Homo sapiens: one gene and its partner. The protein of the gene in region 1 purifies or fractionates together with the protein of each later gene. This does not show direct contact. Each region holds a gene or a part of one and is shown on either strand. Other genes may lie near its edges.

Evidence for each region. The genes of interacting proteins can lie anywhere in the genome.
Region 2: the proteins of PKN3 (region 1) and SPECC1L purify together in Homo sapiens (affinity purification with mass spectrometry; 2 studies listed by BioGRID and IntAct, with this or other methods). This does not show direct contact.

What each region holds. Positions count from the first base shown.
Region 1 is NC_000009.12:128,700,866-128,704,465, forward strand, and holds the start of PKN3 (serine/threonine-protein kinase N3), read left to right. Parts: upstream 1-1,637; 5' UTR 1,638-2,050; coding exon 2,051-2,074; exon of another isoform or gene 2,075-2,559; coding exon of another isoform or gene 2,560-2,604; exon of another isoform or gene 2,605-3,249; coding exon of another isoform or gene 3,250-3,264; intron 3,265-3,600.
Region 2 is NC_000022.11:24,268,702-24,272,517, forward strand, and holds the start of SPECC1L (cytospin-A), read left to right. Parts: upstream 1-2,129; 5' UTR 2,130-2,282; intron 2,283-3,816. UniProt on the Homo sapiens protein: Involved in cytokinesis and spindle organization. May play a role in actin cytoskeleton organization and microtubule stabilization and hence required for proper cell adhesion and migration.

The DNA.
Region 1 (3,600 bases):
AGGCTGGAGTGTAGTGGCGAGATTGGCTTACTGCAACCTCCACTTCCCAGGTTCAAGTGATTCTCCAGCCTCAGCCTCCCTAGTAGCTGGGATTACAGGCACCCACCACCATGCCCAGCTAATATTTTTTTTTTGTAGTTTTAGTAGAGACGGGGTTTCACCATGTTGGCCAGGCTGGTCTCGAACTCCTGACCTTGTGATCCGCCTGCCTCGGCCTCCCAAAGTGCTAGGATTACAGGCGTGAGCCACCGCGCCCAGCTGCCTTTTTAATTTTTTTTTAGCAGAGACGGGATTTCACCATGTTGGCCAGGCTGGTCTTGAACTCCTGACCTTAAGTGATCTGCCCTCCTCAGCCTCCCAAAGTGCTGGGATTACAGGCATGAGCCACCATGCCCAGCCAACCCCCATGTCAAAGAACCTACTATGTGCCAGGTGCTTCTGCTAATGTCTAGACCTCAACAACTCTAATGTGTAAATGTCACATTTCGCCTCTGATTATGAAATCTGGGCATGTTTCACAGAGCCAAGTTGCCTTTGCTTATATGTCAATGCCACTTGGGTGATTTCCCATAGCAGGACAACCCAGTGTTGTCCATGGCTCACCAATTTCACTTTTTTCCAGTCCATTATGAAGGAAGTGATTAGTGCAAAGCACAACATGTGGCTTCCTTCATTCAGTAAGAGCACCAGAGCCTGTCTGTTCCAAGTCACTGTCGGTATTTGACCCTTCATCACCTTCCCACCTCCTGGAGGACGCTCCTCCACGAAGTGCTGACACAACCTCCTGTAAACGCAGGATGCCAGGACGGGCTGAATGGCCCGCCATAGACTAGGCAGTGACCAGCACACCTCCCTTGGGCTGAAATAGTGGCGGCTATTTCACCAGGTGTAAATGGCTTTTCTCCCGTGTGGATGGATGGGCTTTTTAGGGTAAAGCCCTAAAAAGTGGCACGGGCTGAACCAGCAAGCTCAGTCTGAGTAAGAGATGGGCCGGAGAGAGGTCTGGTTCATTCATCTGTAATTTGTAATTTATCATAATTTTGGGTGAGGATTTACTTTTCCACAAGTATACGTTCTTTTTTTTTTTTTTTTTTTTTTTTTGAGATGGAGTCTCGCTCTGTCACCCAGGTTGGAGGGCAGTGGCAGGATCTCGGCTCACTGCAACCTCCGCCTACTGGGTACAAGTGATTCTCCCACCTCAGCCTCCTGAGTAGCTGGGATTACAGGCGCCCGCCACCACGACCGGCTAATTTTTGTATTTTTAGTAGAGACGGGGGTTTCACCATGTTGGCCAGGCTGGTCTCGAACTCCTGACCTCGTGATCCGTCCACCTCTGCCTCCCAAACTGCTGGGATTACAGGCGTGAGCCACCGCACCTGGCCTAGTATACATTCTTGTAGTGACTAATATCTAGTCTGGGCCAACCACTCCGAGGAGAGAGACAATTTTGGATTAGCCCACATTACACCAACAACGTGCGAGACAAAGAGAGACTTGAGGGGCTTGGTCGAGGAGGCCCAGCGCGTTAGAGGCGGGAGCCAGGTTGTAGAGGGGCTCAAAGTTAGAGGAGGCGGCCAGCTCCACCGGCTGCACCCGGCTGGGCGACCCGGCAACCTTCAGGGGGCGCTGTTTCCCCCATCCCTGTCCCTAACTGGCCGGCTCCCGCGGGCGCGCGGCGGGGAAGGCCAGAGGACCTGGGCGCGGGCGATGTGCCTCCTGAGCGTCCAAACCGGGGGTGAGGCGCGGTCACGCCCAGCGGGAACCGCAGGCGCCGAAGCCCGGGTACTGGGCCCAGAATCCCGCGGAATTTTGGATCCGAGGGAGGCGCTGGGGCGCGGGACCTCGGGCGTGGGGTCCCGGGCGCTGGATCGGCGCGGACGGGAGGCGGCGCTGGTCCCGCGGGCCAGCGGGTCTCGGGAGGGGGCGCCCGATCCCGCGTCTCCGGCGCCGCTTCCCGGGAAGTTTCAAGTTTGAAAGTCCTGGCGGAGGGTCTGCGGCTTCCGGGACCGGAGTGGCTGAGAGAAGGGCCCCAAGCGGCCGGAGCGGCGCCATGGAGGAGGGGGCGCCGCGGCAGGTGAACGGCGTGGGAGGGGCGCGCGGGCCCGGGGGGTGCGAGAAAGCCTCTGTCATCGCCCCGGAGCCCCGAACCGCGGCCGCTTCCCCCGATCCTCCCCTCACCCGCGCCCCTTCCCTGCCCCTGCCCTGGCCCCGGCCCCGCGACGCCCTCGCAGAGCAGACCTGATCTCCGGGTTCGGTGGTTCCTGGACCTTGCACAGTCTCCAAATCAGTCCGCGGCTGACCCGGAGACTGAACCCCAACCAGCCCGTGAGCGAGGACGGCTGAGTCCGCAGTGTGCGCCACCAGGGTGGTCCCCAGAGTGTCCTTAAGTCGGTTCTCCTCGGTGGGGCTCCAAGGCCGACGGGAATTAGCCGGGATAGAAAGGCGGGGCACAGGGGCCTGGGGGGGTTAGAATGTGCGCGCAGCGGGGGGCGCAGTCTGTGCGCGCTTGGCAGTGGCAGGAGTCCTTCCCGGAGCACAGGAGGCACGAGGGGAGCGTAGATGAGAGGGGAGCGGCCTCCCCCGCCCCAGGGCGGGAACCTTTGGGTACATAGCGGGTTCTAGAATGCGGAGGGGGCTGGGTTTCCTGCCAGAGCTGGCAGTAGGTGCGCGTGGGCCCGGAGGACCGAGGCCATGTCTATCTGCTCCTGAGGAGGGAGAGGTGGTGTCCTGTTCCGGAGCGAGTGGTTGGGAGGGGGGCATTTGCGGACAGGAGTGGGTCCCCGCAAAGAGCGGAAAGGAGGTGGTGTGTGTGTCCATGTTGGAGTTCCAACCCAGGGCAGACGGGACCATGGGGGTGTTGCGGGGTGCGTGTAGACTCCTTGAGCGCCCAAGCCAGTCGTTTAGGCCGCCTTCAGGGCTGGGGCTCGGTCTGCCCCCTCCCACCCCCTTCCTCTGGAGGTCCCTCCGCCTGTTCCAGACGTAGCTTGTACACATTTTCCGATTTCCTGCGGGGCTCCGCCCTGCAGCGGCAGCTGGGTGACTCAGGACCCCGGTGGCCGGGCCCCCAGCTCCATGGGACCTTTGTTTGCTCCGGTCTTTGGCTCTGGCCCTGTGGCCTAGGGCGGTCAGAGGATTTCCTGAGCCTCGCCCTTGCCCTCTGACAGCTGGGCCAGCAGGCCCCGCTGAGGTCTGGGGTGGGGGGGTCCCTGAGTCTGGGGTTGCGGCCCCTTCCACTGGGCTCAGGAGAAGATGGAACACAGAGAGGTAAGATGGGGTTCCTGCAACAGCCCGTGTTGCGGGGCATCATGGGTTACCCGGCCTGAGGTCACCTTTGGCACCGGTTGGTTTGAAATGCTGGCGGCTGGAAAGGAGGTGTTCCTGTTCCTGGCTCCAACCTGGGTGAAGCCGTGAGAGAGCCTTCTACTTCCTCCCGGGAGCTGAGCAGGGAGTGGGCACCCGGAGACCTCCCCAGTTCCTCTCTGTGCCTCTGCTTTGCTACCTGTGGCATTGGGACATCAGGGGAACAAGCCCTGGCTCCCAGGCCCCTGGCTGCCTTCTCATGTGGCTTCGTGTGAACCCCTATTCGGCGTAGCTTTTGTG
Region 2 (3,816 bases), on another chromosome or scaffold:
CCAGACTGGAGTGCAGTGGCGTGATCTCTGCTCACTGCAACCTCTGCCTCCCAGGTTCAAGCAATTATCCTGCCTCAGCCTCCAGAGTAGCTGGGATTACAGGTGTGCCCGGCTAATTTTTTGTATTTTTAGTAGAGATGGGGTTTCACCATGTTGGCCAGGCTGTTCTTGAACTCCCGACCTCCGGTAATCCGCCCACCTCGGCCTCCCAAAATGCTAGTTTTACAAGCGTAGGCCACAGTGCCCAGCCTAGATAATCTTTCAGAAAAAGAAGCAAATGGAATTCTCCCCAACTCACTGTGAATTTAGTATAGGCTTAAAACCAAACCAGACATAAATAGTACAAGGAGGCAAAAGTATGGACTAACTTCTTATGGACATATATGCAAAAACGCTAAATAAAATATTAGCAAATAATCCAGCAATGGATTAAACATGTATCACGACCAAGTTGGGGTTTTCCTAGGAAACTAAGATTATGTAATAAAAGAAAAAACTATTAAAGTAGTACAAACTATCAAAGGAAAAAACCTGTATGATCATTGCAACAGGTTCATTTGCGACATAATACAATTTTTTTCTTTTTTTTTTTTTAAGTCTTTTTGGCTGTAAGTTTATTCAATGCAAAATAATCCTCTCCAATTCTACTGAGGTGGCTGACGGTGTCCACGACCAAATTTGCCTCTAAACTGGAATTCGGTTGCTGACCCAGCCCCAGCCTCGGCTTTCTTGTCGGCACCAGGGGGCACAGCACTCCTTCTGTAGGTATCTCTGTCGGCTTCTCCTCTTGTGAGTCTTGCAGGTCGCTCACCCTCCAGACCTTTAGACCGAGGCCTGCCAGTCCCTGGACGGCTGCGGCGTAGGGTGGCAGGCACAATCTCCAGGGGCAGATGAAGGTAATCACGGAGATACTGGATATCCTCATTGGTAAGGTACCAGTAGACATGTCTCCAGGCAAACTGTTCCTTCACGTAGTAGCCTCGGGACTACATGACAGGAAGGTTGGGCACACACATTCTTTTTTTTTTGAGAGGAGTCTCACTCTGTCGCCCAGGCTGGAGTGCAGGGGCGCGATCTCGGCTCACTGCAACCTCCGCCCCCTGGGTTCAAGCAATTCTCCTGCCTTGGCCTCCCGACTAGCTGGGATTACAGGTGTCTGCCACCGCGCCTGGCTAATATTTTTGTATTTTTAGTAGACACGGGTTTCACCATCTTGGCCAGGCTGGTCTTGAACTCCTGACCTCGTGATCCGCCCGCCTCGGCCTCCCAAAGTGCTGGGATTACAGGCCTAAGCCACCGCGCCCGGCCGGGCACATTCTTGTCTGCCAACTCCAGGTGCTTAGGCATGTGGACATCCTTCTTGACCACCGTGACTTCCTCTTTAAAAAGGAGTTCATAAATGGCAATCCGGTTTTTCTTAGGCATCAGCATTCTGGGGAGGAGCAGCCGCTAAGGTGGCAGGGTGGCCCGGATGGGGGCCGATGGAACTCGAACTCCCCCAGAATTTCTTTAATATTTTATATATATATATATATATATATACATATATATATGTATATATATACACATATATATACATATATATATACGTATATATATATGTATATATATACATATATATATACGTATATATATATACGTATATATATATGTATATACATATATATATACATATATGTTGCTCGCTTATTCTTTTTGTCTGTTCCCTTATGTACCGGGAGTGCCAGGAGGACAGGGCTTTGTGTTTTCCTCACTGCTGTCTGGCTCATGCATAGCACAGTCCTTGGCACACGGTAAACACGCTGAGGAGAACTTTTGGGACTAGCGGACTCTGAGCATCATTCCGCTGGGCCCAGTGGGGCCTCTGAAGGGACCCGCCTTGCCCGGCTCCAGCCCAAGACCTGAGGCATGCGCACCGGCTGGCCGGCTACTTTCTTGACCGGCCAAGTGGCAGAGCGGCTGCGCGACCCAGTGCCGAGACGGACGCGAGCCGGAGATGGGGGAAGGGGAGGGGGTGGTGGTGGGGGACGGCGGCGCCTGCGCAGTGAAGGAATGTAGGCGGGGCCTCCACGACGCCTGCGCAGACGGCCGCAGCCCTGCTGGGCGCGAAGGGGCTGGCCAAGGGCGGGGCCCGCGAGGGAGGCCGGGCGGCCCGGCAAGCGGCGCTGCGGGGTAGGCTGCTTTCCTGAGGCCGGACTCAACGGGTCTCGGCTGAGCCACCGGGTGAGCTCACCGCCCAGCCCAAACCAGGAGATTGCGAGGGAGCGATGCGGTGCAGCGCGGTAAGAGCAGCAGCCGGGTTCCCGCAGTGTTCGCTGGCGGGTTGGTTTATCGCCTCAGCGCCGCCCGCGCTGCCGCGCCCGGGCGTCCCCGCAGACCCCGGCAGGCCCAGCGCCTGCGCCGTCTCTGCTCCTGGGCCCCTCCAGTGTGTCCCGCGCCTGCGCCTTTCCCTTCCCGCGCCGTCCTCGTTCTGGGCTTCGGGGCTTCTGGAACAACCCGCAGGCTTCGCCGCCGAGACCCACTGGCCTTCGTCCGTTGGTGTTGGGGTTCAGCTGGTTCTGGGACCCCGCTTGCGGCTTGACTGTGTGCAGACAGGCCGGGTGCGACCCTCGTGCTTGCCTTTCCGCCGCTCCGGGAGAGGCTGGGGCTGCCGCCCCATCGCCCGGGTCCCTTGCCTGGGGCGGGGACAGCGTTGTTCAGTGGCCCCGAGGGCGCAGAGCGGAGGAGCAGGGGCCACAGGCGGCGGACCCCGGGCCTGCTGCCGGTGCTGCTTCTGCTGTGGCCGGCGCCCGAGGCGGACGGAACGTCCTTTTTTCTTGAGACGTGGTTAATTGCATCAGGTTGGATGTGAATAATCCGGTACCTGTCTGAGGAAATTTTGCGTTTCCAGGAATTTGGTAATTGTATTACCTTAAGTAGTTAAGTCTAAGACATCATAGTCGCGGCACGTTGGGCAAGCTGCCCTGGAGATGACGAAAAGAAATCAGTTTCCAGTAGTTTTAGCCCATTTACAGAACACGCAAAAATTCTGTGATCATTCAAATGCGGGGAACCTTGATTTGTTGATATCCTTGATCATTTGTCCAAGTACCAGAAGGGCGAGGAAAAGATTCCCGTGAACAGCCCAGGTGATTTCAGGGAACAGTGTTTTCTTTTGTCAAAAGAGCCTCTTAAGCCATGATAATATTTCCCAAGCTTATAACAGATACAAGCCTTTAAAAAATGGCATTTGCTGTCACCCAGTAGGACACATCTTGAGATGAAATCAGAGCTGTAGGCTTTGTAGACAACAGCAGTCATTTCTGGTGGCTTCAGGGAGTGGAGGGGGACTGCAATTTTGCCAATGTAGGTGATACCAAAGGGACTATAGTAATTTTTTCTTCGTAATTAAAAACCAGGCCAGGCGCGGTGCCTCATGCCTGTAATCCCAGCACTTTGGGAGGCCGGGGCGGGCGGATCACCTGAAGTCAGGAGTTCAAGACCAGCCTGACCAACATGGTGAAATCCTGTCTCTACTAAAAATACAAAAAGCGCGCGCCTGTAATCCCAGCTACTCAGGAGGGTGAGGCAGGAGAATCGCTTGAACCCGGGAGGCGGAGGTTGCAGTGAGCCGAGTTCGCGCCACTGTACCCCAGCCTGGGCTACAGAGCGAGGCTCCGTCTCAAAAAAACAAAAACCAGATATAACAAGGCCGAGCTCCCTGGCTCACGCCTGTAATCACAGTAGTTTGGGAGGCCGAGGCGGGTGGATCACCTGAGGTTAGGAGTTCGATACCAGCCTGGCCAACATGGTGAAACCCCGTCTCTACAAAAAATA